Homo sapiens: one gene and its partners. The protein of the gene in region 7 interacts with the protein of the main gene of each other region in a pairwise test. Each region holds a gene or a part of one and is shown on either strand. Other genes may lie near its edges. The genes, in order: SOX6, LARS1, MNAT1, WDR13, HIPK1, ARK2N and ERG.

Evidence for each region.
Region 1: the proteins of ERG (region 7) and SOX6 interact in a two-hybrid assay, tested with the Homo sapiens proteins (one large-scale study listed by BioGRID and IntAct).
Region 2: the proteins of ERG (region 7) and LARS1 interact in a two-hybrid assay, tested with the Homo sapiens proteins (one large-scale study listed by BioGRID and IntAct).
Region 3: the proteins of ERG (region 7) and MNAT1 interact in a two-hybrid assay, tested with the Homo sapiens proteins (one large-scale study listed by BioGRID and IntAct).
Region 4: the proteins of ERG (region 7) and WDR13 interact in a two-hybrid assay, tested with the Homo sapiens proteins (one large-scale study listed by BioGRID and IntAct).
Region 5: the proteins of ERG (region 7) and HIPK1 interact in a two-hybrid assay, tested with the Homo sapiens proteins (one large-scale study listed by BioGRID and IntAct).
Region 6: the proteins of ERG (region 7) and ARK2N interact in a two-hybrid assay, tested with the Homo sapiens proteins (one large-scale study listed by BioGRID and IntAct).

Annotation. Positions count from the first base shown.
Region 1 is NC_000011.10:15,982,357-15,986,381, forward strand, and holds part of SOX6 (transcription factor SOX-6), read right to left. Parts: coding exon 3,848-4,025; intron 1-3,847. UniProt on the Homo sapiens protein: Transcription factor that plays a key role in several developmental processes, including neurogenesis, chondrocytes differentiation and cartilage formation.
Region 2 is NC_000005.10:146,112,332-146,116,973, reverse strand, and holds the end of LARS1 (leucine--tRNA ligase, cytoplasmic), read left to right. Parts: intron 1-2,662; coding exon 2,663-2,868; 3' UTR 2,869-3,940; downstream 3,941-4,642. UniProt on the Homo sapiens protein: Aminoacyl-tRNA synthetase that catalyzes the specific attachment of leucine to its cognate tRNA (tRNA(Leu)).
Region 3 is NC_000014.9:60,961,334-60,965,358, reverse strand, and holds part of MNAT1 (CDK-activating kinase assembly factor MAT1), read right to left. Parts: intron 1-4,025.
Region 4 is NC_000023.11:48,595,544-48,600,352, reverse strand, and holds the start of WDR13 (WD repeat-containing protein 13), read right to left. Parts: upstream 2,862-4,809; 5' UTR 2,739-2,861; exon of another isoform or gene 2,396-2,738; 5' UTR 2,357-2,395; coding exon 2,316-2,356; exon of another isoform or gene 1,637-2,315; coding exon 1,396-1,636; intron 1,001-1,395; coding exon 891-1,000; intron 767-890; coding exon 636-766; intron 35-635; coding exon 1-34.
Region 5 is NC_000001.11:113,967,144-113,971,168, reverse strand, and holds part of HIPK1 (homeodomain-interacting protein kinase 1), read right to left. Parts: intron 3,404-4,025; coding exon 3,221-3,403; intron 2,728-3,220; coding exon 2,521-2,727; intron 1,214-2,520; coding exon 972-1,213; intron 1-971.
Region 6 is NC_000018.10:46,264,263-46,268,017, reverse strand, and holds the end of ARK2N (protein ARK2N), read right to left. Parts: 3' UTR 1,026-3,755; downstream 1-1,025. UniProt on the Homo sapiens protein: AMPK substrate important for exercise capacity and skeletal muscle function.
Region 7 is NC_000021.9:38,386,708-38,390,732, forward strand, and holds part of ERG (transcriptional regulator ERG), read right to left. Parts: intron 1-4,025. UniProt on the Homo sapiens protein: Transcriptional regulator. May participate in transcriptional regulation through the recruitment of SETDB1 histone methyltransferase and subsequent modification of local chromatin structure.

The DNA of each region.
Region 1 (4,025 bases), on a different chromosome or scaffold from region 7:
TATAATCCACTCAGCAGAGTACACAGCACACAGTAAGTATTCAATAATCTATCTTTATCATTGCTAAAAAAGTAGCCCCAAATTTAATATTTTATAGTAGTTTTACATCTGTATCATGGGGGATTGGTTCCAGGACCCCCACAGATAACAAAATCTGAGGATGCTCAAGTCCCTTTTATAAAGTGGTATAGTATTTGCATATAACCTACACACATCCCCTATATACTTTAAACAATCTCATTATTTATAATAGCTAATACAATATAAATGTTATGTAAACACTTGTTATGCTGAATTGTTTAGGAAATAAACGCAAGAAAAAAAAAGTCTGTAGATGTTCCATACAGATGCAACCACTGTAGACCTAACTACATAGTGTACTTTAGCAATAATGTAACATTTTCTCGAATTTTTTTAAAAAATATTTTTGATCCACAATTGGTTGAATCCACACAGATACAGAGGGCTGAATGTACCTGCATAATTCTCTATGAGTTCATAGGTAAATTACCAAATAAGTTTCAAATAAATGGAAGTATATTCGGTCACAGTTCTTTGGGAAGACGTCATTGTAGCTACATGTACCCTAATGAATATTCCCTCTACATTAATAGTAGAGGGAATATTCTGGACACCACACTCAGAATTGGTAAGGGCCTATTTGAAACCAGCTATGTGTCCAACACTTTATTAAATTAGTATAGTAAATGAGGCATTATTTCTGTACACATGAGTTTCAGAGAATTCTGTAGTTGGAGAAGCCAGATACATACAAACAAATATACAAAGCCAGATACATACATGAATAGATTAGCATATAATAGTGTGTTATACCCACACATACACACACACATTTATTATCTTGAATAATCCAGATAATAATCTTATCCAGATTATTACAACATTCTGATACTTACTCTGCGAACTGAAGAGGTTAAAACCAAGGCAAGGGCTAACATTGCTCCCTTCCATATTATTGATAAATTCATTTCATAATAGCTAAGTAATAAAAAAAACTAACTCATCAGCCACAGTTGTGTAGTCAGTAAAATGCATGAAAATGTTGAGCAGTATATGCACTTTTATTGGCTTGAAAGTTATGCATGTCTTTTCAAAATCAGCTATAAAAATTGATCTGAACCCATTCCATCAAAACGTCAATAGAAATATTTGAATTTTTGTTTGTTTTTTGCTCAACTCTTGTAATAACCTCATATGTAATAAAGATCAATTTCCAAAGAAAAACTTCAGGAAATTAATAATCTATCAACTACAACTACTTAAAAGAGAATACAAATCCTTAAGCAGAAATAACACCTGGCTCTACATAGCAAGTATTATCAAAGCTGGGCAGAGGAAAATGCTCAGCATTGAGATGAAAGAATAAGACATTCTGATCATTGCCTGCACTTCAGTAGCCCTATTCTGCAGTCTAAAATGATCCTTCCATAAAGGACTGTTCTACACTATTGAGAACAGGATACTTAGTCTCTAAATTTCAAAGTTCTTTTTATGTACCATATACCACAAGCAGAGACTTCATTTTCTCCAAGTGCTAAGAGCTCTTGCTCAGATGGCATAGCCACACTCATGACTGCCAGCATAGGGCTATGAGGCATATTTTGAGACAAAGTAGTAAAGACAGTTCCTCAGTCATTTGGCATGATGGGGGCCAATACCTGAATTTGAACCTTTGCTCTTTATCACCTTTCTGTAGCCATAGAAACTCTCTAAAACTCAACTTCTTTATCTTATTTAGAGAATTATGTGACTTATATATCTAAAATCCTAGTATACACTAGATAGTCAATAAATAATAGATGTTATTAAATTGTTTTAGTTTTTTATTTTTACATGCATTGGTACATGTTGTGGTATTTTGATCTAGAGCTGTTTTAATGTACCCTTTAGTAAAGGGAACTAAATTCAATAGTATTACTGCAACTCATATTTTCAAATAAGTATTACACCAAGGTATTAAAACAGCACCTTTAGTAGCCTTCCAGACTGGCGGAACAGCCCCACTATGTATCACTACATACACAGGGAACATGACTGAGGGAGGGCAGGAATCACAAGAGGTCCCAAACTTAAACTTTGGATTGTTCAAAAGAGATTATACACAATCTTAGAGGTGTACTAACGGGATTAAAAGAGAATGTTTATCACATAATCTTAAAGTGGACTATGAATTAGTATTTTTCATAAATCCTCTAATTATCAGCTGAATAGCCCAATTATACCACATTGCCCTTTTTAGCGTTAAACGCATTACCTTTAAAAATGCAAACATTTATAATACAGAGGAATTTGATAATCCTATTTTGTCATGTCTTCATTTATTAACATACTGGGATCTTTTATAATAAAGTGGCTTAAGCTTCTCTCTACCTCTAAAAGGTTCTGCCATGGTATAAAGAAATTCACTGATCATCTGGTGTGATATAAAATATGGTTTTCTGTGATAGGAAATACATATTAAATAGTAATGATAATGCTAGAGTTCACCTTTATTGATATCGTATTAAGCACTATATAAAGTACTTTTAAAAGCGTTGCCTCATTGGATCTTCTCAACAATCATACAAGATAGTTTCCACTATTCATTTCATTTTACACATGAGAAAACAAAAGTTAGAGAAGTTTAATAACTTGCCCAGGTAGGTGGCACAGTCAGTATGTGAACCCCAGAAGTCAAACTCCAAAGCCCACGCTCCTCCCGAAAACACTGCAGTGTATTGCACAGATTCATGACCCAGACTACGTTCATTGGCTTTGTTTTCTTACTCTATTTACTATTCCTTTTAAACACATGCTCTGAAAACAACTTTTTGTTCCACAGGGTTACCTCTTGAGTGCCCTTAAAAGTGAATAGCTCTTGGCTTCTCCTTTAAGGTACCTCTTTTTCTACCTTCAAGTGAAGCTCTCTTAGTTTCCTGGCACAGCACAGCTCCTCAATTCTCCTCCAACTTCACAGCAAATGCAACTTCCCTCTTGCTTACTCTGCTTCTCTCTCTCAAGCTCTTTCCCAAGTGTTTCCCTACTCTGAGTCCAGCTGCTTCAGGTCTGTGCCTCAAATGGCCCTCTGGATTTGCCACCCTGCTGTGCTTCTAGGTCTGGGTATGCTGGAATCTACAGTCATCTGCATCCCCACTTATCCTGACTACTGTGGTTATGAGGGGCCTCTTTTGAATGCAGACAGCCAGTCAGCCAAGTTGAAATTTATACCAGAAATCTATTACCTAATTTTTAAACAAAATGACATGAAATCAGACTTGAAGATATCAAAAGCATGTCTAGTTTCTGATTTAAGCAAGAAAATACACATTGTTACTGCTCCCACCACAGAATAATTTACTGCAACAGGAGTTCTGGATCTTATGCCAAAAATGAGGTCCTCTAACCAATGTCGAGGCCAATTATCTTGTGGTAGATCCCACAACAAAAGCAGACTATTGTGATTAGAGTCAGAAGCACCACCCAGAGAAGCTGGAAAGCTTATGGGGATTTCTTAAGGTTAGTTTTTATTTTTCCTCCCTGTGTATCTGCTTAAATAAACTACCAGAAACTCTGTGTGTGGCCACTGAGCATCTTAAATTGGCTTGGGAGACAATGACAGGGGTGATCAGCTGGGAGTGAACTGTTCCAGGTTTGGCTTGATTTGAGCAAAAGCCATGGTGCAAGGCAGTGCCCCTATGACACAGCAAAGATTCTCATGGCCAAGCCCCTTCAGTATGCCACAACCTCCTCTTTCCCTAATCTCCTTCCCAAACATACTGCCAGTAGCCATCCTATAGTTACTTACCGCAAAAGTAAAGCCCAGGTGGCTAAATTCAGGAATACTTACCCCACAGTAAAGAACTGCCTCATCTCCTGTCTCCGAGACCTCATCAGTTGCTTATACTCCCCAATCCGAAGCTTTTTGCCATCAACAATGCAGGTGCGTTTCGGTCGGGGTTTGTATTTATAGTTTGGGTACTTCTCTAAGTGGATCTTGCTTAGCCGGGCCTGCTCTTCATAATAAG
Region 2 (4,642 bases), on a different chromosome or scaffold from region 7:
GCCCTCAGGATGCCTTGATATCTAAAAGGCCTGAGTATATTCAGTATATGAGATGGAAGAGGAGTTAAATTCAGTAACATAGTTATTGGTCTGTTTGCTGCAATAGACAGCAAATTGTCCAATTAGTGCCAGTTGTATTGAGGGTAATTATGATCTGGGTCCGGGAGGAACTGAACTAAAACTATCATTTCATTCCACAAAGGCCACTGAGTAAACTATCTGATGGTAATAAATTTGAATCACTCACAACCCATGCCATATGTGAACTAACAACTTGGAAGTGAAAGCCTTCATTTCTCGTTATCAGTCCCTAGGGACTTAGAATCACTCTCATCTTTTCTCTAAGAGCCTTAAATCTTATGTAGTTGCAGGCTTAAATTTCAACAGTTTCAATGATAAGAGAAGTCTGGGATAAAAGACAGTTAAACCAGTAAGAAAGCTCTACGAATCTATGGACAGTAATGAACTACATGGTGAAACATCAAAGCAAATATGTTTTGTCACTTAGAAGCCTGATTGAGTATTAAGGTTTCTTTGAACTAGTTTGATTCAGAATTGCTTGGAATGATGAGGGAGGTCTGTTTTAGACAGAGAGAAAGAGTGTGTGTGTATGAGAGAGAAAGAGGCAGAGGCAGATCCGCAGTAAAAGGCCTTATGCATAAAATCTGCTGGCAGAACTTGTCACTGCATCTATAGCAAAATATTTGGTACCACTGATGTGTACGTTGAATTGCAATAGCTGTTAAAATTAATTGTATTCTTCCCCAAAATAAGATCGTGGCTGTCATGAAGATTGCGCCTGCTCTCTTCCCATTTTAATTTTCAGGGCTCGTACTGTGTCTGGGAATAGATTGTATGGTCCCTGCAGAAACTCTCCAAAGACTCTTAGACAGGGTTTGCTTTTGTGGTAGTCGCAGGTAATTGTTCTATAAGCCCCTTCTCTAAACTTCGGTCTTTGTTTCCCGAAGAGGACAGAATGCATGGATAACTTGTATTCTTGGTTGGCATGGCCGCCAGCTGCATTAAAGTCTTCTTTTATCTCTTATCCCTCTTATACTAAGCTTTGTACTCTCAAGTCAACATGAGGGAGGGTAGCTCAGGTGTGTTTCAGAAAGAAATGGGAAGTAATTCAGAAAATATCTTCTATTTCTATGGATCAGGTTAAGGATAACTAGCCATGCTACACTTCGAATGAGATATAAACCCAGAATCAGCATTTGTAGTCATTTCTGGTGTTTTTCTGCCATATAAAATAAAACCATTTGATGTTGGGAAGTCTCAGAATTGCTGAAATAAATATACTTCTTTTGGGCTCAGTTGTTGGCAGGATTGTTGACTTACAAAGTTGTTCAAGAGACAGGTGCTTTTTTTTTTTTTTTTTTTTTTTTTTTTGGTCAGGCGCTATTTTTTCAGCTTGCATAAGAGCAGATTAGGAAAATCTCAAGCAGGGTGGGTATTAGACCTCATCCTACAGCTAAAAATTCTGAAAGCTTAAATTTCTGTCCTTTCTCTGCCTTGTCCCCGCTCTCCTTGTCTCATCAACTTGTTAATACAAATACTTTCATCTTTTGAGCAAATGAGAAACTGGTAATGCCATTTCTTAGAGTAGTCATTATTTATCCAAAAGTATCTCTGAGAAAAGCTACAATTCTTGCAAGTTTAGTGTATTCCAGGGAGCTCAAGAAAGGGGTAAGTTTTAGATTTTTCGATATTCTGTACAATGGTTAATTGAAGCATATAAAAATGATTTGAGAGACCATATAGGATAATGCTAAAAAATACACACAATTCTTTCTCTCTCTTAGTTTGTAATTCCAGGAGATGTCAGAATCTCTGACACTTTGAGCTGGGTAAAAGCTGAAAGGGGATGAAGATTTGCTACATTTTAGCTTTGCTCCTGGGATTGTTTTTTTTTTTTTTTTTTTTTCCCCCCGACAGAATCTTGCTCTGTTGCCAGGCTGGAGTGCAGTGGCGCGATCTTGGCTCACCGCAACCTCTGTCTCCTGGGTTCAAGCAATTCCACTGCCTCAGCCTCCCTACTAGCTGGGACTACAGGCATGCACCACCATGCCCGGCTAATTTTTTGTATTTTAGTAGAGATGGGGTTTCACCATGTTGGTCAGGATGGTCTCGATCTCCGGACCTCGCGATCTGCCCACCTCAGCCTCCCAAAGTGCTGGGATTAAAGGCATGAGCCACCATGCCCGGCCACTGCTTTTTTTGTTTGTTTGTTTGTTTGAGATAGAGTCTCACTTTGTTGCCCAGGCTGGCATGCAATGGTGCGATCTTGGCACACTGCAACCTCTGCCTTCCAGGTTCAAGCGATTTTCCTGTGTCAGCCTCCCAAGTAGCTGGGATCACAGGCGCCCATCACCAGGCCCAGCTAATTTTTTTGTGTTTTTAGTAGAGATGGTGTTTTGCCATGTTGGTCAGGCTAGTCTCGAACTCCTGTCCTCAAGTGATTCACCCGCCTCAGCCTTCCAAAGTGCTGGGATTACAGGTGTGAGCCACCGCACCCAGCGTGGCTTTTATTTAATAATCTGAAGAAAATATTTTTGTTTAGATATAACAACCAGCGTATTTAAAACGTGAGTTCTCAGACTGCTCCAGGGTTTGAGTGACTGTAATTAAATGCTTATATTGATAATTTATTTTGTTGTAGACCTTTCCAAAGTGAAACTGATGAGATTTGATGATCCACTGTTGGGGCCTCGACGAGTTCCTGTCCTGGGAAAGGAGTACACCGAGAAGACCCCCATTTCTGAGCATGCTGTTTTCAATGTGGACCTCATGAGCAAGAAAATTCATCTGACTGAGAATGGGATAAGGGTGGATATTGGCGATACAATAATCTATCTGGTTCATTAAACTCATGCACATTGGAGATTTATCCTGGTTTCTTAGGAATACTACTACTCTGATTGTGTCTACTGATTGGCTATCAGAACCTTAGGCTGGACCTAAATAGATTGATTTCATTTCTAACCATCCAATTCTGCATGTATTCATAATTCTATCAAGTCATCTTTGATTCCTGGACCTAATAAATTTTTTTTCCCTTTCTTTGGGTGTCCAAGAGAAATGGTTTTTGCCAAACTCTTTTTAAAAAACAAATTGTTGCTATTTCCTAGAAGTTTCTGGTTTTTAAGATGAACATAAAAGTGTCAGTATGCTTCTTTTATGAGGTGTACTTTATACTTTGATGAAGGCTAAGGTGTACCTAACAGCTTTTTATAGTATATTCATTTATGGAGTTAGCTGTATTTTTTTTTAAAAAAGAAAAGTAGTAAATTAGCAGCTTTTTTTTTTAAATGAAGAGAACTTCATGATGATTTAAAAGAACTAATGAGAATATTTTGACTTGACTTCAATTACTAAGTATTTTGTATAAAGAACAAATAGGTCCTGCATTTTATAAGACTTTTTAAAGCTTTAATTATTCAACTAAGAACCAATAATGGCTTCTTCAAGGCTAATATCAATAGTTTATAAGCAGTATATTTCACCTACACTAAATATGGGCATTTTAAAAGAAGATTCCCCCCTTCCCCCCCAGAAATCTGCATTTACTAAATTTGTCTTAAGTCCAATTGTGTTTAAAGGTCATGCTGGTCGGGTGTGGTGGCTCACACCTATAATCCCAGCACTTTGGGAGGCCAAGGTGGGCAGTCACCTGAGGTCAGGAGTTTGAGACCAGCCTGACCAACATGGTGAAACCCCGTCTCTACTAAAAATACAAAAATTAGCTTGGCATGGTGGCGGGTACCTGTAATCCCAGCTGCTTGGGAGTGTGAGGCAGGAGAATCGCTTGAACCTGGGAGACCGAGGTTGCAGTGAGCTGAAACCGTGCCATTGCACTCCAGCTTAGGCAACAAGAGTGAAACTCTGTCTCAATCAATCCATCAATCAATCAATAAAATAGAGGTCATGCTGACTATTACAGATTTATTCTTTTATTCTTGTTGGAGTGTCTTTTAATATCTGCGCCATCTGTCTTCATATGAGGAAAAAATGTAAGGCATTGACTAACAGGAGAAACATTTCTAATTTTGATGGGTTTAATATGGAGAAAGAACAATTTTGATAACCCAGAGGAACCTGAATTCTAACTGCGGTTATGTAAATAGAGTTTATTGAGCTTCCTTATTTTGCTCTCCGCAGTTAGGGACCACTAGGCCTAGTCATATGGTTTATCACAGATTTATTGAAGCCAATCATAGGATGTTAGAATTAGAAATCATCAAGTGCAAATAATCACTTATCTACTAGGGACAGGCACTATAGCATAGTGGGGTAAGAGCGCATGCTCTGAAATCAGACTAGCTAGGTTAGATTTCCAGTTCTTCTTTTTGCTACTAGGATGCTCTTGGCCAATTACTCGGAGCTGCAGTTCTTCATCTATAAAATGGAACTAATACTGGTACCTTGTAGGCTTATTGTGAGACGTTTAGGTGAACTGATCTAGGAAAATCATAACACAGTGCCTGGCAAGTAGTAAGTCTTTAGTGAATGTTACCATTGAAGAAGAAGAAGATGATGGATACCAAGGTATATTGGCTTCAGATTACTGTAGTCTGTAATCATGTCCTTTGTGTTGGTTCCTTTGGGGCAACTGATTCTTTCTTTGCACTCCTCTAGATTC
Region 3 (4,025 bases), on a different chromosome or scaffold from region 7:
AACAGTCATACTCCTTGATGCCATAAATGTGTAAAAAAAGTTTTATCTAAATGATTAGTGCTTGAAAATAGTATTTCTTGAACATAGTCATAATCCAGAGTAATGAGCAAATTTTTAAATTTGACTTATTAATGCTAAGTTGTACAATTCTCACTGCCAAAACCAAGTCAATTAAAATTTCTTTGCATAGCACTGAAGAAAATGCCCTTCCCTTCTAGCAATCATTTACATTAAACATGTCTGTGAGTATGAGTCGTTGAGAGTCCTGCTTATTTACTTTGCTGTTTTTGATCTCTAGGGCTGCACAAAACTGTTACTGTGAAGTATTTCAAACTATTTTCACCACGGCAACCTACATTAATGCCAATAAAAAATAAAACAAAGTTCATTTTTGTTATTCAATTGTGGGCTTTTATTTTTTAAGTATCTTAATGTTCTTAAAACCTTTAATTATTGTAGCATGTCGAAGTATTTTAAAGAATCTGCCACATTGAAACAGCACAATGAAAATTTAGTGTTTTCTGTACTTTTCTACCTTAATCCACATCTGTGTTTTTATTCTTTCATGACCATTACAAGTACATCACTGAACAGGATTCCTGGGGTTTCTGGCAGAAGTCAGTATCATTTCATGTATACCTTTATAAAACAGAATGAGGAAGAAGTCTTAGCCAAATTTACTTCCAAAAGTCAAGCTCAGTTGGGTTTGGGAGCCTGGAGGTAATTGCTCTGACTATTTAGCCAATCCCATGACACTATTCCTGTTTTTCATGGGTTTATTTTAAATATGTGTAAATCGTATAAGCAGAAACCAGGAAAGTAAAAACGAGGTTTGCTTATTTTGGTACCTATACCTTATTTTTACTGAAAGCAGACTAAACTCAAAGACTTAAAAAATCATACCTTTGATTATTTTCTTAATAAGGTCAAAAAAAGTATGTTTTTGAAAGCATGTCTAAGATAATTCTTGTACAAAGGACATCTTATGCCCTAATTTATGCTCTGTCTAAAGCTGCCTTCCTATCCCATCAAAATCCCTTTCAAACAGACCTTGGAGAAGAGGGAGGGAAAAGGAGCAATGGATCCTGAGAAGGGCGTAAGATACGATTAAGCATTAGAAAACCACACTTGAAGGTTTGTTCCTGAACTTTGGTTTCCTACACTGTCATTTTCTTGTGTTATATTTTGCAGCTTTTGCTCCCAAAGAAAGTGGAATAATTTACACTTAGCTTCAGAAAGACTTCAGTTTCTTAGTTCTTTAACATAGGAGTGCTTCTGAGATTACTCTTTTCCTATTTCCCTTCCTTTAAAAGCACTATATTGACCATCTGGCTGAAGTCTTGGACTCAGCTCGTTTTAGTGCTACTTAACAATGCTTTGAGTTCTCAGCTAGGGGCAGAGGGCAGGGCTTGTCACTCAAGACCAAGAGGCAAGCACTCTTCCTGTCCAGTCATAATATGTTTGTGACAATCCTTAAAGCACACTGGCTTGGAATTAATATTGAAATGAAATGTAAAGTTCATATTAGTTTCCTCCACCTCAAATTACCGGGCCCTATGGAGAGTTAAAAACTTGGATTGGTTCAAACTAAGAAAGGTAGTGAACTCTAGAGACTAAGACTTTCTTTTTACAAGGTGGCCCGTTTTTTTAGTCTTCATTTAAAGCCATCATGCATTAAACAGACCATTTCCAAACAGATCTGTGTCCTAGCCCACAAAATTCAAATCTAACTGCCATTAAGAGAGATCAGCCAGCTGATCTCAGCTATCAAGACCCACAGCTCTTGTAGGAAGTTCAGCCAAAGCTATAAAGATTTACATTAACAACCTGAAGCCTACCTCAGTGAGATTTAAAAACAACCAGAGCAACAGTGCGCTCACACAACTATCACTAAAAAGCAAAACCATTCTGAAAACTAGTTAATGGTTAGGTGTCTTAAACTAAGCACAGTACCAGAATAATAGACAAACTGTTTATAGAGTGGTAACCATATATTCTAAGATAAATGAGAAAAGACACTACATGTCAGAAATACTATTCATAATTCTGAGGGCAGCTTGGTTATAAAAATACATGGCCGGCTGGGTGTGGTGGCTCATGCCTGTAATCCCAGCACTTTGGGAGGGCGAGGTGGGCAGATCACGAGGTCAGGAGTTCCAGACCAGCCTGACCAACATGGTGAAAACCCGAATCTACTAAAAATACAAAAATTAGCCGGGCGTGGTGGCACGCACCTGTAATCCCAGCTACTCAGGAGGCTGAGGCAGGAGAATCGCTTGAACCCGGGAGGTGGAGGTCGCAGCGAGCCAAGATCACGCCACTGCACTCCAGCCTGGGCGACAGAGCGAGACTCCATCTTAAAAAAAACAAAAAACAAAAAACATATGGCTTCATGAAGTCCAAACAAAAATGTAACAAACTTCCACAGGCAGTCATATGTTACTCTTACACTTTACCATCTAGCCAGCTAGTGAGAATACAATTTGAATAAACTAATAATAAAACTGAATTCAGATTTACATCAATACACTTGGAAAGAGAGTGAATAGTTATGCCAGACATTTAGACCAATCAAACACCAAAACTCATATTTGGAAATTAAAAGACACATGGTTTCCAAATGAACACAATGCTTTATTATTACTCATATTTAATAACTGAATATAGATTGCTCGGAGAAGACTTTCTGCCTTATAACTGGAGTATAAGTCCAGTTATACTATAACTGTGTAATTTATTGCTATCAAAGAGCACACCAGGTATTTTGGATAGAACAGTTATTACTGACAGTTAATATAATTACATAATGAAAGGATTACTTCCTTGATTTAAGTGTGAACTATAGAACACACAGAAGATATAGCTACTTAAGTATAATATATTCTATGAACAATGTTGTTGGTAGTGCTGATTATCTCAAAGGATAGACCTCTAAGGATAGATTCTGTCTATATACTACATACATTTAAACACAGGAACATCTCAGGAACATGGGCTATGAGATAGATAGAGCCATGAAAAACAGATAATAAACAGTAGCTAATAGGCCAAAAGATATTTGATAAATTTTAAGTATATTCTTCCAAGTCAGATGTTTATTTCCACAAGAGATTAATACAATGTTTGTCTAATTTCAGTATTGCCATTATATGCTTAGATGACATTACACAGAAAAATGGCATAAATATTGTTTTTATTTTTTGATTCTTAAAACATTATGATACTCATTTCTATTAATTTATTCAGAATAATGACTGGAAGAGACAGAGTAAGGCAAAGTTTCATTAAAAAATCTAAAAATAGCAAGTAATATGAGCCTAGATTTTGTGTATCCCAATGAGGAACAAGTGTCACTTCTTGGAAATTCAGTAGATATTATAAAAATAAATGTACTAGCTTCTGAATTTCTTTGGTAATATTCCTTAAAAAACCTAGTGCCTGATTCTGGTTTGTCTAATGTAATTTTTTACTAGAAATTCCATGTTAGTAACAGCTATGTGCCAGAATTTTCATCATATCTTTATAAAGGCAGGATGAGTAATTTATCTCCAAGAGTGAGGGGACAAAAATGCAGAAATTTAGATACATGCAGCTCATTCATTCTCAAAAAAAAAATTACTGAGAGCCTACTATTTGCCAGGTATTGAAGTAGCCCTGATAATAAGACAGAGAACAAAGCCTTCGTGATCTCATTGACCGTATAATCCAGCAGAAAAGAAACATATTAAATAATGAATATTACAAATGAGAAAGTAGGGCTTGATGAATGTGGATAAAAAGAGAAGCCAACATGAATAAGATCAGAACAGGTTTCCCTAAAAAAATGACAGTTAAGCTTAGATCCAAAGAGATAAAATTAGCTAGGAAGGCAAGGGGAGTATAACGGTGATCCAGAGAGAGGGAAGAACATATATGAAGGAGTAAGGAGACACAGTACATATTGAGAATATAGGGGACAGGTGGTTTCAGCTCAGGATGAGGCTAGAGATGTAGGCAGAAAGTACACAAAAGATGGCCTTATAGAA
Region 4 (4,809 bases), on a different chromosome or scaffold from region 7:
TGTCGGTCATCATTGGCGAAGCGCACCCTTGGGACTGCAATGCCAAGAAGCCATTAGTGGGAATCTGCACACTCACTGGGCACTTTTCTCTCTAAAAGGCTCTGACGTGTGTGCCTGGGGCTGGGGCCCCACTGCATGAGGAACAGTGGCCTCAGCAAAGGGCTTTCCTTGGCTGACAAAGGGAACTGTAACCCCTGAAGACCCTCTGCCAAAGCTCCCTAAGTCTTAGCAGCTCCTTTGCAGATTGCAAAAGTCTTCTGCAACATGAAAAAGTTCCTGTCTTAGCGAACACTTTATAATCAAGGTCTTGGCAATTTGCAAAACCCTTGACACTGTAGCCCACTCTGCCCTCTGCAAGGGGATTTATCATCAGCAAAGGCTTTGAACTCTTCCAAGTGACTCAGGAACCCAGGCAGCCTGCTGCAAAGGGCTCTCTCTTAGGCTTCTGAGGCCCTTTCCAGTAGACGAAGCACTGACCACTTTGCAGAGGGATTTTCAGTCTACAAAAGGCTTTATGGATGGTCATTCCTCCTTTGGAGTGTGCCAGGGGCCTTGGATTCAGAAAAGGATGCCTTGGTTGGTTGTCACAGTTTGGGCAAACGCTTGGTGATGGAACCCGCTACCCACTGGCTCACCTGCCTCATCCACGTGCTGGTCAAAAACATGATACATGCCCGCAAAGGCATAGTTCTCGCTCAGTGACGTGTCCCCGGCCATGGCCCGACTTGCCTCTGCTGCTGACGTGGGCACCACGCTGCCAGGGGGCCTGGGCCCCAATAGGAAGTGAGGGGTGACAGGAGGTAGATGCGAGAGTGTTCAGTCTGCCATTGCCCCAGGGCCCCTCTCCTCCTCGCAACCCGCCCCCCGCCTTGGCTGCCTCTGGTGCATACCTGTCCTCATAGACGGCACGGTTCATCTGCGCCTGCAGCTGGTAGGAGCCTCTGCTGACAGAACGACGGTGCCCACGGGCCCCCAGGGCCCGAGGATCATCCTCAAAGTCCTGCAAATGGAGAGGGTCAGGGTGGGTGCATCTTGCAAAAAGCCCGAGAACCTTTGAGGTGTGGAGCCCTGAAAATCTACCTAGAGTCAGATCACTTCTCACTGTGTCCCCTGCCACCACCACCGCTGCCCACTTGTACTACTGCAGTGGCTTCCTCACGAGTTCTGCTGTTCCTGCCCTCCCCCTGCTCAGCAGATACTAAAGACAGGGCTTGCTATATGTTTACTGACCTGTTTACAAAGTTTGTGTGTTTACTGGTTTACTTGGCATATTATCTTTTTGTCCTCTGCTGATGCAGAACAGTGCCCAGCAAAGAGCAGGTGCTTGATGAAAGTCAGTGGAGTGAATGTGTGCAGGCAGGGTATGCCCGGGGGTGAATGTGGCCAGAAGCTCACCTCCATGCGGTCAAGAGTAGTGCGGCTACTGCGGACGATGCTGTTGCTATAGGCACGAGCACTGCCTGGCTCGGAGAGGGGCCCGTAGCGCTGGCCCAGCAGCTGCCCCCGAAGCCTCAGGTACTGCCGACGCAGCGCTGGGGGGTGCCCAGCCTTGGCATTCTCCCGCAGCAGCTGGCTGCGCCGGCGGATATACTGCGTCCGAAACTGTGGAAACGTTGGTGTGCGGTACGCGTTGTACCTGCAGGGTCAGGATGCAGGGCAGGCAGCAGGCACAGGACAGAGGGAATCAATCAGCTCGGGGGGGGGGGTACGGCAGGAGAGTGAGGTGTGTGGCAGTGACTGGGGCCTAGGTGGTAAGAATGACTAGCAGTGGTGATGAGGGACCTCTTGGTCCTGTGGTGGGAGTGAGTCTGCAGTAATAATGAGCATGGTCATGAGGTCAGTTTGCAGACAACAGAGTCAGTCTGCTGCCGTGCTGGGGTCCCTACGGGGTGACTGGGTCAGCGCAGACAATAATTAGGGTCAGTATACCAGGGCGACAGAAATCAGACTGACATTATGGGGGTCAGCGTTGGGAGGTGATGGGGTCAGAATGGGGAAGTGATGATGTAAAAAAAAAAAAGTCTAGGGGACACCCATAGGGGATAGGATGTCACCTGCCTGAGCCCCACCTCCCTCTCACAGGTAGCCGCTTTGCGCATGCCCACATCTGACCACATTTTCCCAGCTTGCTGTTTAGAATCCTCTCCGGCGCAGCCAACTCACCGCGGGCGTGCCCGCCCCCGCTACTGCGCATGCTCACCTCCGGCATGCCCACGCAGCCGCATAAGGCAAGTTCTCCGCCCAGCCTCACTTATCGCCATTGCGCATGCACCACAGTAAGTTCTGCTCCCATGGGCTTTGACCCCACGCCTCACCTCGCGTCCACTGCTAAGACTTGCTGCCACACCGCGGCCATTCCCCGGCCTCCTCCTCTGGCGTGTCCGCCCGCGGCAGCCTGCAGGACAAGGGCCTGGAATGTGAGCGTCCCGAGCGAAGGGATCTAGTTCCGTCCCTTCCACCAGGCGACCATTGCCATAGACATCGAGTCCCTCCGCGCCGGAGATGTCACGAACTCCCCCCCGGGTGTTACCATGGTCATCACCCCAGCCCTGCCCTTCCTGGGCAGCGCCCGGGTGACACACAGCGATTCAGAACAGACACCGCCCCTCCCCAGTCGCCATAGCAACGCCCCTCCCCCGCCTAGCATTCCTTGCTTGACATTCTCCACCCATCTTGTCCCCGCCGCCCTCCGCCTTCCCTTCTCAGATCCAAGAGCATAGCCCGGGATCGGGGACCACCTCCGGGGCTGCCTCCGGTTCTTGAGGCCCCCCGGAGCGGCCCTGAGACCACTGTCGCCGGTTCCTTCTGTCTCTCCTCCCTTTCTCAGGCTCCAGGCAAGATGGCTGCCTGCTATCAGAAAGAACTGCCGAGCCCAGAGCGAATCGATAGGCATCCTTCCCAGGGCGTGGGAGTCTCGCAGGCGCATTGAGGGACATTGGCTTCAAGCCCAAGGACGGAGGCTCCACCCCTTGACTTCTACCCACTCGTTAATTGCACTTTTTGTGTATACAAGGATAATGTCCAAGGGACATAGCGTCAGGGGTGAGTTTGCTAATCATTCCCTAGAAATCAGAAGTACAACATTATAAAAAAGAGAAGAAACACGACTTTTAAAAAGTGGTGTAGGGCCGGGCGCGGTGGCTCACGCCTGTAATCCCAGCACTTAGGGAGGCCGAGGCAGGTGGATCACTTGAGGCCAGGAGTTCAAGACCAGCCTGGCCAACATGGTGAAACCCCGTCTCTACTAAAAATACAAAAATTAGCCGGGTATGGTGGCGGGCGCTTGTAGTCCCAGCTACTCGGGAGGTTGTGGCAGGAGGATTGCTTGAGCCCAGGACGCGGAGGTTGTAGTGAGCTGAGATCGCGCCACTGCACTCTAGCCTGGGCGACGGGAGTGAAACCCTGTCTCAAAAACAAAAACAAAAAAAGTGGTGTAGGCCACTTTTTAGCAGCACAATCTTGTCCAAGCAAAACTTGAATAATAGAATAAAAAATCATCATATATGCAAAGACGCCTTGAAAGTTCACCAGTTCTTGCAGTGGGCCTCTGCACACCCCTGGGATGAGTAAGGTCGGTTGTGTGTGTGTGACTGGGATGGTTGGACTTGGATGCCCCCAGACAGCTTGAGGCTTGAGTTTCTTTCTTTTTTTTTTTTTTTTTTCTTTTTGAGACGGGAGTCTCGCTCTGTCGCCCAGGCTGGAGTCCAGTGGCGCGATCTCGGCTCATTGCAAGCTCCGCCTCCTGGGTTCACGCCATTCTCCTGCCTCAGCCTCCCAAGTAGCTGGGACTACAGGCGTCCGACACCACGCCTGGCTAAATTTTTGTGTTTTTAGTAGAGAGGGGGTTTCACCGTGTTAACCAAGATGGTCTCAATCTCCTGACCTCATGATCCGCCCGCCTCGGCCTCCCAAAGTGCTGGGATTACAGGCGTGAGCCACCGAGCCCAGTCGAGGCTTGAGTTTCTAAAGACAGAAGATAGAATTAGGCAAAAGAAGCTTTGGGGTTTGGATCCAAAGAGGCTATCTGAATCATCTCTATTTCAACTTCCAGCAGGAAGCTGCTTTCAAACTGTTCATCTTAACGTTATCAGGGTAAACTTCCTGTTGGATCTTAACATCAACTGACATAAAATTCAAAGCTGTTATTTTCCACATTATTTTTATAACAAATACAATCAATTCAACAATGTTTTAAAGTCACCGAAAGATCACACTGTATTGTGTTGACTCAGCATCTCCCTTGTCCCTGTAACAAGCTTATCAGTGTCTTTTCATATTAAATACTCTTTTGTAACATGATTGATAAAGAGTAAACTCTATTTCACTGCACAAACATGTAACCTTAACAAGAACAACTAATATTTATGAGACAATGTGCTGGGTACTGTTCAAGGTATTTTATACATATATTAATCTATTTAATCTTTTTTTTTTTTTTGAGATGGGGTTTCACTCTGTCACCCAGGCTGGAGTGCAGTGACACGATCTTGGCTCACTGCAATCTCTGCCACCTGGGCTCAAGCAGTCCTCCTACCTCAGCCTCCCGGGAGCTGGGACCACAGACATTTGCCACCACGCCCGGATAATTTTTCTATTTTTGGTAGAGACGGGGTTTCACCATGTTGGCCAGGCTGGTCTCAAACTCCTGAGCTCAAGTGATTCGCCCGCCTCGGCCTCCCTAAGTGCTAGGATTACAGGCGTGAGCCACTGTACCCAGTCAATTTAATCATAATAACTGAAGGTTGTGGGTCCTGTTACTATCCCCATTTTACAGATGAGGATATCTGAAGCCCAGGGAATTCAAGGGTG
Region 5 (4,025 bases), on a different chromosome or scaffold from region 7:
CTTCTGAAAAGAATCACACAGAGGCATAACACAATACCCTCAAATTACAACCCTGTTTATGTCTATGGCAGTAAGATAATACATAATAAAACATAATTTATACAAGTATGGCCCAGGTTTATGTTGACACCTAAACTTCACCAACCCCTTCCTTGGTATGAAGTTGTCACTGAAAAGCAGCTGCCTTAACAAGACTACATTGCCTGGGCTCACTTGCATCTAGGTGGGGCCATGTGAGAAGCATTCACTATTTCCACTTATTTCCAGCCTAAAGAGGTTAAGACATGTGTGTGCCTCCTTCACACTTTCTTTCTCCTTCTGACTGGATGCTCAGGAATCAAACACTTGTACCAAGAAATTATATGAGAGAGAAGTAAAATTCTACTATGTTATGCTACAAAAATCTAGGATTTGTTACTGCAACTGCTATTACCCAACTAACACAATAACTAAACCAGGGAGCTTAAGTCCAGTATCTAACAGGGCAAAGATGATGGAAGTAATTGGGTTGGTAATAAAACCATCAAAAGCATCACTGCTATGACACTGGGTGAGAAAAAAATCTAAAGAATATAACTGTTTTCCAAAACACTTTTGCAGTCATTTTCAATATTATCAAGTCCTGTCTACATCTCAATTGCCAAATTCAAATCATCTGTGGCAAACCTAATTGCCTGCTAATTCTTCTTGCAATATCACACGTCTTGTCTGCTTTCTCCCATCAGCACTGAATGTGTTTCTGAGACTACAATCTCATTTGTATATTAATCCAAGCAAAATAAACACAGGAAGATAAAGTGATGGCCAAAAATAATTTCACATTGTGCAGGGAACTGATTTCTGAATTAAGGTCTCTTTAAGAATGTCTACACCACTGGTCTCTACCACTGATATAAGTGGATTATGGCAAAATATTTAAGCATTCACACATCAAAGGAGAATTCAACTCAAGCTGTGAAGATAACACTGACCTGAGGCCTGGGTTGCTACAGTGCAGTCACCAAGCTGAGTTTTCAGTGGAGGCACAATGATAGTGCGGGTGCCAGTGCCATCTGCCACAACTCTGCCAGGCCCCTCCAAAACGGATCCACTATTGCCTCGGAGAGCACTCAGGGTATCAGTGGAATAAGGGCTGCTCAAAGAAGAGTCAGAGTCTGGAGAATCATTGACAGTGACATAACTGATGACATTAGACCTTGGCTTCAGTCCAGAGCTGAGGAAAAGAAAAATACATGAAAATTGAATTGTTCTTTTTTGTGTGTGTGACAGCGTCTTGTTCTGTCACCCAGGCTGGAGTGCAGTGGAGTGATCACAGCTCGCTGCGACCTCAACCTCCTGGGCTCAAGCTATCCTCCCATCTTAGCCTCCCGAGTAGCTGGGACTACAGGTGTGTACCACCATGCCCAACTGTTTTTATCTTTTGTAGTGATGAGATGTCACTATGTTTCGCAGGCTGGTCTCAAATTCCTGGGCTCAAGTGATCTTCCTGCTTTGGCCTCCCAAAGTGCTAGGATTGCAGGCATGAGCCACCATGCCGAGCTTCAACCACCCTTTTAAGCAATGTTTCTTAGATGATCTGTCTCTGGTTCTCCCATGATAACAATGATGATAAAGATGGTAATAATAATAGTAATATTAGCAGCAGTAAACTTCTGGGTACTTATGTATCAGGCACTACTCTCATGCTCCACATACATCTCACTGAATCCTTACAACAATCCTATGAAGTAGGTACTATAAACCCCATTTTGCAGATGAGGAAACTAAGGAATAGGGAGATGAGGAACTTGCCCAGGGTCACACAAGAAGTGATGAGTGGTGAAGACAGGATTCAGACCCAGGACAGAATGACTTCAGAGTCCACACCTCTAACACCTCCTGTATGTTGCCTCTACCATCTTACAATTGGTCCTTTTGAACTAACAGGCTCTAAATTCATTCTAAATTTTCTCTTCCAAGTTCACTTAAACTTCATTTCTGCATGACTCTGTAAAGTCTCCTAAGTTACTTTCATGTGTGAATCCTACCTTCTCAGGTAAAAGCAAGAGGTCATTCCCTCTTCCGTATGCCCAACACCAAAAGCCCCATCGAAGGCTATGCTTCCAAAACACCTTTTTCTTCGGCCCTTTTTTTTGGGTGGGGGCGGGAGGGGATGCAGTCTTGCTCTGTCACTCAGGCTGGAGTACAGTGGCACGATCTCAGCTCACTGTAACCTCCGCCTCCTGGGTTCAAGTGATTCTCCTGCCTCAGCCTCCCGAGTAGCTGGGATACAAACATGTGCCACCACGCCCTGCTAATTTTTGTATTTTTAGTAGAGACAGGGTTGTGCCATGTTGGCCAGGCTGGTCTTGAACTCCTCACCTCAGGTGATCTGCTGGCCTCAACCTCCCAAAGTGCTGGGATTACAGGCGTGAGCCACCATGCCCCACCGGTCCTTTCTTTCACAGGCCAAACTGGGCCCACTTGCCTGAGGCCAACAGTCTAAAACCAATAGAGCCAGGAACCATTCACTTATCTTACCTACTGGGCTTGTATTTGTTGTCCTCTTCCTCATCAGTGTCACTTCGGATAGTGATGACACTCACAGGAGGGCTGGGAGTATCTGGAATGATGATGGGCTGATGCTGATCTTGGACAGGGACCAAGGAATTATAAGAAGATGTGGTGCGGAGGGGACTGCTCCCAACCAGAGAATAGACTTGGGAAGGCAGAACATCTAGAGAGGACCTGTAGGAAAAGTTCACATGGAAAGATGATTCAGTCCTTGGCCTTCCAAATTGTGTATCTTTTCCCCAGACTGCTTTCCAATTTACTCATTGATTCCTTTTTACATAATCATTAAGCAAATACATTTAACTATATAAGTTCCAGTGAAAATAAGCACCATGCTGGCAAGAGTTTCCAGGGACAAGAACACCAAAATACAAAAGACATTTTACTTTTATAAGCCCTTTATCCCAGGATTAAATTTCACTCTGTAAAGTAAAATAAAAACATCATAAAATGCCCTAGATTCAAAGTGGCAGCAGAGACAAAGGACCATCATAAAACCAGGACACACCTGGTGTACATGCCCAGATGAAATGATTTGCTCTTCCTCAATTTGGCAGCTACTTGCTGCTTCATATCTATATTATATGTCTATACAATATTCCAAATGCAAGGCAACATATCTCTCAAACTGGCACAGTTTTAACTATCAGCTGTAACACAGACTCACTTGGAAGAGACTGGAGCTGACTGCTTATTCTTCTTCGAAGGGAGGGAACTGGATTGTTGTTGTCTGACAACATGGGCAACACCAACATTCAGAGGCTGAGCAGTGGCCAATGTCACATGGTTAGTCAGCAAGGATGGCTGCTGCATGATAGTGCTGTACTGGTTGCCATGAGAGTGGGCATTCCTGTACCAACAGAAAGAAAGAGAAGAGTGAATTCCAAAACCACTGAAGAATCAGGACCAAACAGACATCAAAAGCAATTAGCCAAAATGCAGCTGCATTTTATTTTTTTAAAGTTGAGCACCTACCATCTGATAAGGGATTAATAACCAGAATACGTAAGCAGCTCAAACAACTCTATGGAAAAAAATCTAATAATACGATCAAAAAATGGGCAAAAGAATTGAATAGACATTTTCCAAAAGATGACTTACAAATGACAAACAGGCATATGAAAAGGTGCTCAACATCTCTGATCATTAGAGAAATGCAGATCAAAACTGCAATGAGATATTATCTCACCCCAGTTAAAATGGCTTATATCCAAAAGACAAGCAATAATAAACACTGCCAAGGATATGGAAAAAAGGGAACAATTGTACACTGTTGGTAGGAATGTAAGTTAGTACAACTATTATGGAGAACAGTTTGGAGGTTCCTGTAAAAACTAAAAATTGAGCTACCATATGATCCAGCAATCCCACTGCTGGGTATATACCCAAAAGAAAGGAAATCAGTATATCAAAGAGATACCTGCACTCCTATGTTGCAGCACTGTTCACAGTAAGATTTGGAAGCAGCCTAA
Region 6 (3,755 bases), on a different chromosome or scaffold from region 7:
GCAACCTCTGCCTCCTGGGTTTAAGCGATTCTCCTGCTTCAGCCTCCTGAGTAGCTGGGATTACAGGCACACGCCACCACACCCAGCTAATTTTTGTATTTTTAGTAGAGGCGGGGTTTCGCCATGTTGGCCAGGCTGGTGTCGAACTCCTGACCTCAGATGATCCGCCCACCTCGGCCTCCCAAAGTGCTGGGATTACAGGCGTATGAGCCGCTGCACCCAGCCAAAGATTTCTTATAGGTATTAATATGTCTACGTCTCAGATACAGGGTGGTATAAAAGAACAATTTCAAAAATCTGAAGATATTTCCTACTAGTTAATATTGTGTTTCCTAATTGTTAACAGATCATTTTCCAGTACAAGCAGAACCAAAAATTCTTGAGGAAAACTAAGAGATTCAGGAGTTGAATGTTTTAATAAAAAGAGGTTTCACTCTCCCTGGTTCCTCATTCCCCTTTATGTGAAGATAAGTTACAAACATCATGAGGTGTTAATATGGTAGTTCCTATCATTTTAATAACCAAATTAAAAATCTGAAAATAGAACCAAACTATGGAAAAAATTATTCAGTCTATTTTTCAAACACCCTATACCTGCTTCAATGTTTAACCACATGCAAAGTGCATGCCGTTGCAGCATCTTACCTTGACTCTCTGATCTCTGCAAAGTAATAACCAGCAGTGAAGTTTTGTTGCCAGGAGTAAAGGTGCCCAGAACAATAAGTCTTTGGCCCTCTTTGAAATCTCAGGTGGGGTTACAGGAAAGCTAATGCAAAGCTATTTTTATCAACATCCAACAATTATCCAAGGTTACTTGCAAAACTTCTTGGGAGTAGTTTTGCAAGTAACCTTGCAAGGATACAGCTCTTGCTTTGAAAACTCAGACATCTTATAAAGATAAGACTTGTTAACAAAATAGAATCCACTTTCACATTTAAAAGGTAACTTGGAAATTGCTCCAGGTACCACCTAATTAACTGAAGCAGATAGGGACAAAGAAAAAAAAAAAAAAACCTCAGAAGATATCATTGTTTAAATACACTCTATTTTATTTTGTCTTAAAATAGTTTAACCTTTATGCTACAGACTTATTTCAAAAAACAGAAAATCTTATCTTGCACCAAAAAATATATATATAACACTCTGTTTTATTATTTTTTCTCCAAAGACCATTAAATACTAAAGGGAAACAAAAACGAAATAATGAATGTAAAGAACCAAATTTTGTTTTAAAAACTAGAGTTGCACATTTGAAAACATTAATTCTAAGCAATGATTTGTCATCACTGCATCAAGTCCACGCTCACACTCCAGCAACAGCAGATCCATTAACTGCCAAGTGCATTGGTTCCTAGCCATACAATGGCTAACATTTCATTTTCACGGTAAGAGGAGCAAAAGGCTTCAATGGCCTCTGTACTCTTTAAGAAACAAAACAACAACAAAAATATTTCCTAGTTATCCAGTGATTTTTTTTTAAGATCACTACCTTTTAAAATTTGTTAAGAGAATAAGAAGTAAGTAGTGTTTTAAATAAAATGAAAAAATACAACAGCATCAGACTAAAATACGTGATTATTTTAAACAAACAGTGCACAATCTGAGGAAGTTTGGTTAGGGCACAATCATTTTTATATCTACATGGAAGTCACATCATACACATATTGGAGAACAGGGATTGGGGAGCTTGCTTTGCCTTAAAAAAGTTTAAAACTAAAAGACAAAATAGTGTCCCCAGCTTTTTCAAAAACCTTTGTGACAGTATAAAAAGCAGGTAACAAACTTAGTTTTAAGTTAGTTATGGTGCTAATCTGCTAAAAGTAAAGATGAACAAATGACTACATTAGTAAACCAGACAATTCATATTCATAATTGATAATAAAAGCAAAGTTTATGGGATGTTTGATTGCCAAGAATAAACTGAATGAAATAAATTGAATAAAAAAGAATGCATTATTCATTCAGTCTGGCCCCTACCATCAAAATGAAAAGACAATTACTGGAGAGCAGCAATTACAGGTTACATGGCAGTCATGATGATGCAACAGCTAGGTCACTGCTCTGTTTTTCACAAATTGGAGGGGGTGGAAACTTAACCAAGTCAGTGGCATAAACCAATCTGTGACCCACATGTACCATTTTAGCAGAGAGATTACTCTGAAGACAATGTCCTGTGAAGCATAAAGAACTACTTATGCTACCAAATGTAAAACTTTGATTAAGAAAAACCCCTTTAAAAGAAACTTCAAATGTCACAGGAGCTGTATACCACGGAATTGTATCATTAATACCTTGCCTGAAACCACACTCTCCACTCTTCTGGAAACAGCAATGAAAAGAGAGTTGAAACACAGTCTCTCTATAGTTATTAGGGGAAATGACCCAACCTAGTAGGGGAGAGCTGTCTATCTCTACCATCCCTTCCCCTCCCCCTCTGCATCTTAATATCCAAATCTCCGTTCTGGTCCATTAAGTCAGGCAGTTGGGAGCTGGACTAGGAATAAGTGAGGCAAAAGTGCAAGCTGACATAAAGGCAAAGGGCCAGAGAAGAGACTGGTTACAGCTCCACTCTGTTCCTAATCCACAGTGCACACAGCACGCCAACTCTGTAGAGGATGACTATATTAGGGACTATGAAGAAAATATGTCACACGGGAAATCACCTGCTGTGTGGAATTGGGAAAAAAAATATGTGGTTAACATAAGAACAGGTCATGCAAAAACATTCATTAAAATGGGCCTCTGCCCTGACAGTGGGGGAAAAAATAAGCTGCAAAAACTTCAAGTCACATCATCCACTCTATTCTCTTCTCTATGAATTTCCTGGAAAACACAGACCAGAAATTGTACATTTCTGCTTTGTCTAGTATTTTAATTCAAGTCAAAAACTATGTGTAACAGTAAAATTCAATAAATTAATCCTAAAGTAAAATGTGAAGGTCCAAGGATACACCAGTAGTGAATCTTCAGAAGGTCCTACTTTGCTCTGGCCTCTGGGTCTTTGGTTTTTGTCTAGAATTGTGGCCATGTGAGAGACTGATATATGAGTTGCTAAAGCTGGAGGTTCATGATCTTAAAAGCCTTATCTAACAAAAGCAGAAAATAAAAATAAAAAAAATAAAAGCTGATGAAGGACAGAGGCCAGATCAAATGAGATGCTATCAGAGAAGATCAAAGAACATATGCACAAATACATTCCTGTGGAAGAAGGAACATACAGGAGAACTAATGCAACAAGAAGCGTAAAGGAATAAACTTGTCTTTACAAAAAAAAAAAAAAAAGAAGAAGATGAAGAAGAAGAAGAAGAACAGGCTGGGCAGGTGGAGGCAGGCAGACACTGATGCATGTGTATGTGCGGTGTGTGTCATTCATCTCAGCAGCCCCCAGAGCACCCACCCCTCACAGTGCCTTATGCAGAGCAGGCACTTGGTAAATTTGTTTGCTGAATGAAAACTGAAAATGGTAATTCTCATACTCTTAATGATAAGAAGAGCCACCAGGGGATTTGGAGAGACAGGCAAAGGGCCATAGCAACGGTAACAATGGAAACAAAAACAAAAACAAAACAAACAAAAACCATGAAAAACAAAAGGTGAAGTCTTCTAAGCCAATATTACTTCACTCCCCCTGTGCAGAGTACATAGTGTTCTAACTCTAGGTATTGCTTTTAAAAGAATTCACTAGTAACTACAACATATTATAAGAAAGAAGGTAGTAACTAATGCCACAAAATTCCAATGCTGGCATTTCCTGA
Region 7 (4,025 bases):
TTGAAAGACAAGAGCTTTCATTGAGTAGCATCACCACCTCTACCTTAGGACTCACCTTTCTTGGGTAAACCCTTCAGATCTATTTTTTTTTTTTACTCTCTCTTAATAACATCCTTGCGATGTCAGTAAGGAGGAACTAATTTTTTCTTAGGGTAATTACCAAAATAAAACATATTTGGAGGTAAAAAACAGTGGCAAGCAGCATTGTCCACCTACAGAGAACCCTGTGGGTGAAAGGGAGCGGCTGTGGCTTTTAAGAAGACAGAGGCACTCCTTTAATTTTACAGAGGAAAGTAATCTCCTAATATTGTTAAAAGAAAGGGAGAGAAACAGGGTAGCAAAGGGGTACAGACTGAGCAAAAAAGGGGGAAAAAAAAACTAAACGGTTTACAAACCACAGAGCAAAGCAGAGAGCTGCAGAGTGAGTCAGCAGCTGTGTCTGGTGGAAACAGCATCCTGGTGCAAAGCCCTGCAGCCGTCAGCTGATGAACAAGGGCAGTAAATACAGCCGTGAGGGGCCCCACCAGTACCATGTGGCAGTGGTTTGGGGCCACTTTCTCTAGAAGCCAGGGGTGGTGCAGAAGATCCCGTGTGCATGGCCTGGACCCTCTGCAAGGCAGCAGGTGTGTCCAGCAGGTGTGTCCTGAATGGAAGTCTCTGCCCCGAGGCTCAGTGAGGCTCAGGCACCACTTACTGGAGGGGCAGGAAAGCATGGTGGTAGGGAGCACCAACTTTGGAGTTGCCACTGCTTCAGCTGAATCCTGCCTCTGCCCTTTGTGGGACGTTTGGCAACTCTCGCAGCTCTCTCTGCCTCAGTATCGTCATCTGTAAAGTGGGGGTGATGGTAATAGTACTATCTTGCAAGATCATGGTAAGGATGAACTCAGTACTTGAATGGTCTTGTCAGAATTTCTTTGGGCTGAAAATCAGAGTTTAAGGAAAGATAACACTCCTCTCCTATAGCCAGGAAATGCCTAAAGAAAGAGAAATACTGTTCAATTGGCCTATTGAACCATGAAGAAGCTTGAAACGGTGCTATTCTTGGGCTGACTGATATCCTCTGAAAGCTTACTGTGTGCCATGCACCATTCTAAACGCTTTACATGTATTGGTTTATTTAATCCCCACAGGAATCATGTGATTAGTCCATTGGAGAAGTGACGAAATTGGAGCTTAGAGAGGTAGACTGACTTATTTTGCTTAGCGTTGGCAAGGGTTGAAATCCAGACTCTAGGCTGCCATGCTTAATCACTGCGCAAACTTGCTTTCAGGCCTGGTTTATGCACACCTCTGTAGCCTCCTCAGGTCCTTTCCATGTTGTCCCCTCCCTGGGGGACTCCCACTGGAAGACTGCACACTGCCACCTCCTAACAAATGGGAAAACATCCCTAGCCTGGTCTGTCGTTCTGCAAGAGGCAGGATGTATTTTCATGTGCACCATTGAAGAGTATCCAGTTAGCATCAAGGAAGCCTCTGAACATAACCCACCAAAGCTCTTTCATTAGAGGAACCATGTTAGATAGATTCTCAGCTGCTCTGATGGGATGTAAAGGAGCTGTGTTGCTTATAACCGATCCATGATATCAGAATGCAGGGACACACTGTTCTCAGCAGGAAAAGTGATGTCCAAAGTACACATCAAGTGAATATTTGGGATAGAGATGTTGGGATGCTGACATCATCCTGTGCATTCATACTATATGATGCAATCTTTCCACTTAAAATGATGAAAAGGAATTTGTATTGTATGAAGAGCAAAGACAGCAATTTTTAAGTGATGAAAGATTTATTTATCAGAGAATAGAAAAATAGAATCAAACAGGAAGAAGCATTGTCATTAATACAAAGATAAAAGACATTCTGGTTTCAGGGGAAAAGTTCACATGAGCACAACAGACACAAACCTAAAGATAGATGGAGAGAAAGTCAAATTCATCAGAAACTAAATGAAATAAATCTTTATCTTAAAGTCACTTGCCTGCAAATCAAAGATGGGATGTTGCCATTTTCTCCAGGCCCATTAAGAACAGTCTTAATGGTATGAAGCACAGTCCTCCTTCCCCAGGCCTGTGATGAGTTTCCGGTCTCCTTGCTCTGAGCTCAGGTCCCTCTATCTACAAAGGGCATCCCCGGGCTGCTGGGCCCAGGGCATATGCAGTGTTCCCTTGTGAAAGCTGGCACTTTGCTTAGGAGCAAGTGACTCAGGCCCTATTCTACAAACAAGCCAAGCAGTACCTTTGGGCTGTGACAACGTGGTCATGGACATATATGTTTCATTTGGCCAATGTGTGAGTGCAAAGGCCAGTTTGGTCTTCTTTGGTGCAGCTTGACTCTTTCCTCCTCTTCCTTCCTGACCTCAGATTCATCGCCTGCACCTAAGCAGTTATGACCCTGAAAGGAAATCCTTGCTTTCTATTCTCACAGTCCGCATTTTGTAAGACCTCCTCTTCCCTTCATACTTAGTCAGTGGCAGAGTAGGGCAAGAAAACAAAAGTAGACTTTGCAGACAGAGTCAGGTTTCTAACCTGACCTCCCTTATCATTGGCTGTGTGACACAGGAAAAGTTACTTAACTTCTCTGGACTTCTAATTCCTTTTCTGTAGGATGGAGATAGTAACCTCCCAGGGCTGTTATGAGACACAGAAGGGACCACAGACATTCTATGGGGGGCATTCTGCGGGATGGGAGCTGTTTGATTGTTATTTCACATGATTGTATTAACATTCCCAGAGTGTTTCAGCTTCCGTCATTTTCTTTTTTCTAATCTATCCTGAACATTGCTGCCAGATCAGTCTTCCTGAAGCATGACTGATAATAATCATCTCAAAACATAGTCATTATTTTTATTTGAATGGTTATATGGCAGAGTTGCAAATGAAAAGCTGAGCAGAAGGCTGAGAAGAGACCACAGCCTCAGGAGCCTGGGCTACTAGATGAAAGCCAGCATGAGCAAAAAGGGCCTGTGGCTCTGTGTTTGGGACAATGTTGTAACTACCTGTGTCCATCTCTCCACGGACCAAAAGCACCCTGAGCTAAAGGACTATATCTCATTATCCTTGGCATTCATGTATGCAACAAATAATTATTGAGCACCTAGTCTAGGCCCCAGGCTAACTAGTTTTCTTTAGATTTTCAGCTGTGTAAAAAAAATTCATTGAATTCATTAACATTAACCAAAATTTAACTTCAAAAATACAGATGTTCAATAATGATAACATTTCGTGTTTTCAATGTGTAGATTCTCTTGCAGGGATGTACACTGATTAAATCTTAATTATTCCATTTCGAACCTTATTTTGGCCTCAACGTTTAGGAAATACACATTCCATCTTGTGCTTGCAATATGCCTGTAACATCTTGGCATTTGAATTTGCAGTTGGGAATATGCAGCATAGGCTATGAATTTCTGAAGCTGGTGCCAGCACAGCTGGTTCTGATCTGAATACAAACAAATAAAACTATGTGGTTGGCACTGAAACACTAGGACAGGTGACAAACCTTGGCAATGCACTGGTTACAAATGGGCTAATTAAGAATCTGCACTTTCTTCTAGCATCGAAGTTCAGAAACAGACCATCGAAGATGAGCCTGAATTTGAAGTCTTGTGGTTGTATCAAGGCTCTCTTTTAAAAAATACTAGTTATTTTATCTGCTTGTATAATGGGTTGAATTGTGTTCCCTCAATTCCCTATGTTGAAATCTTAACCCGCAGTATCTAAGAATGTGACCTTTTTTGGAGATAAGATCCTAAATGAGGTAATCAAGTTATAGTAAGGTTATGGGGTAGGTATTCCAACCTGACCAATGTCCTTATGCAAAAGAGGCATTTGGACACAGAGACTGACACACACAGAGAGATGATGATGAGAAGAGACACGAGGAGATGATGGCTATCTGTAAGCCAGGGAGAGCCCCCAGGACAGATCCCTCCCTCACAGCCCTGAGAAGGAACGAAACCTGCCACCATGACACTCTGATTTCAGACTTCCAGCCTCCAGAACTGCGAGACAATAAACTGTTGTTGT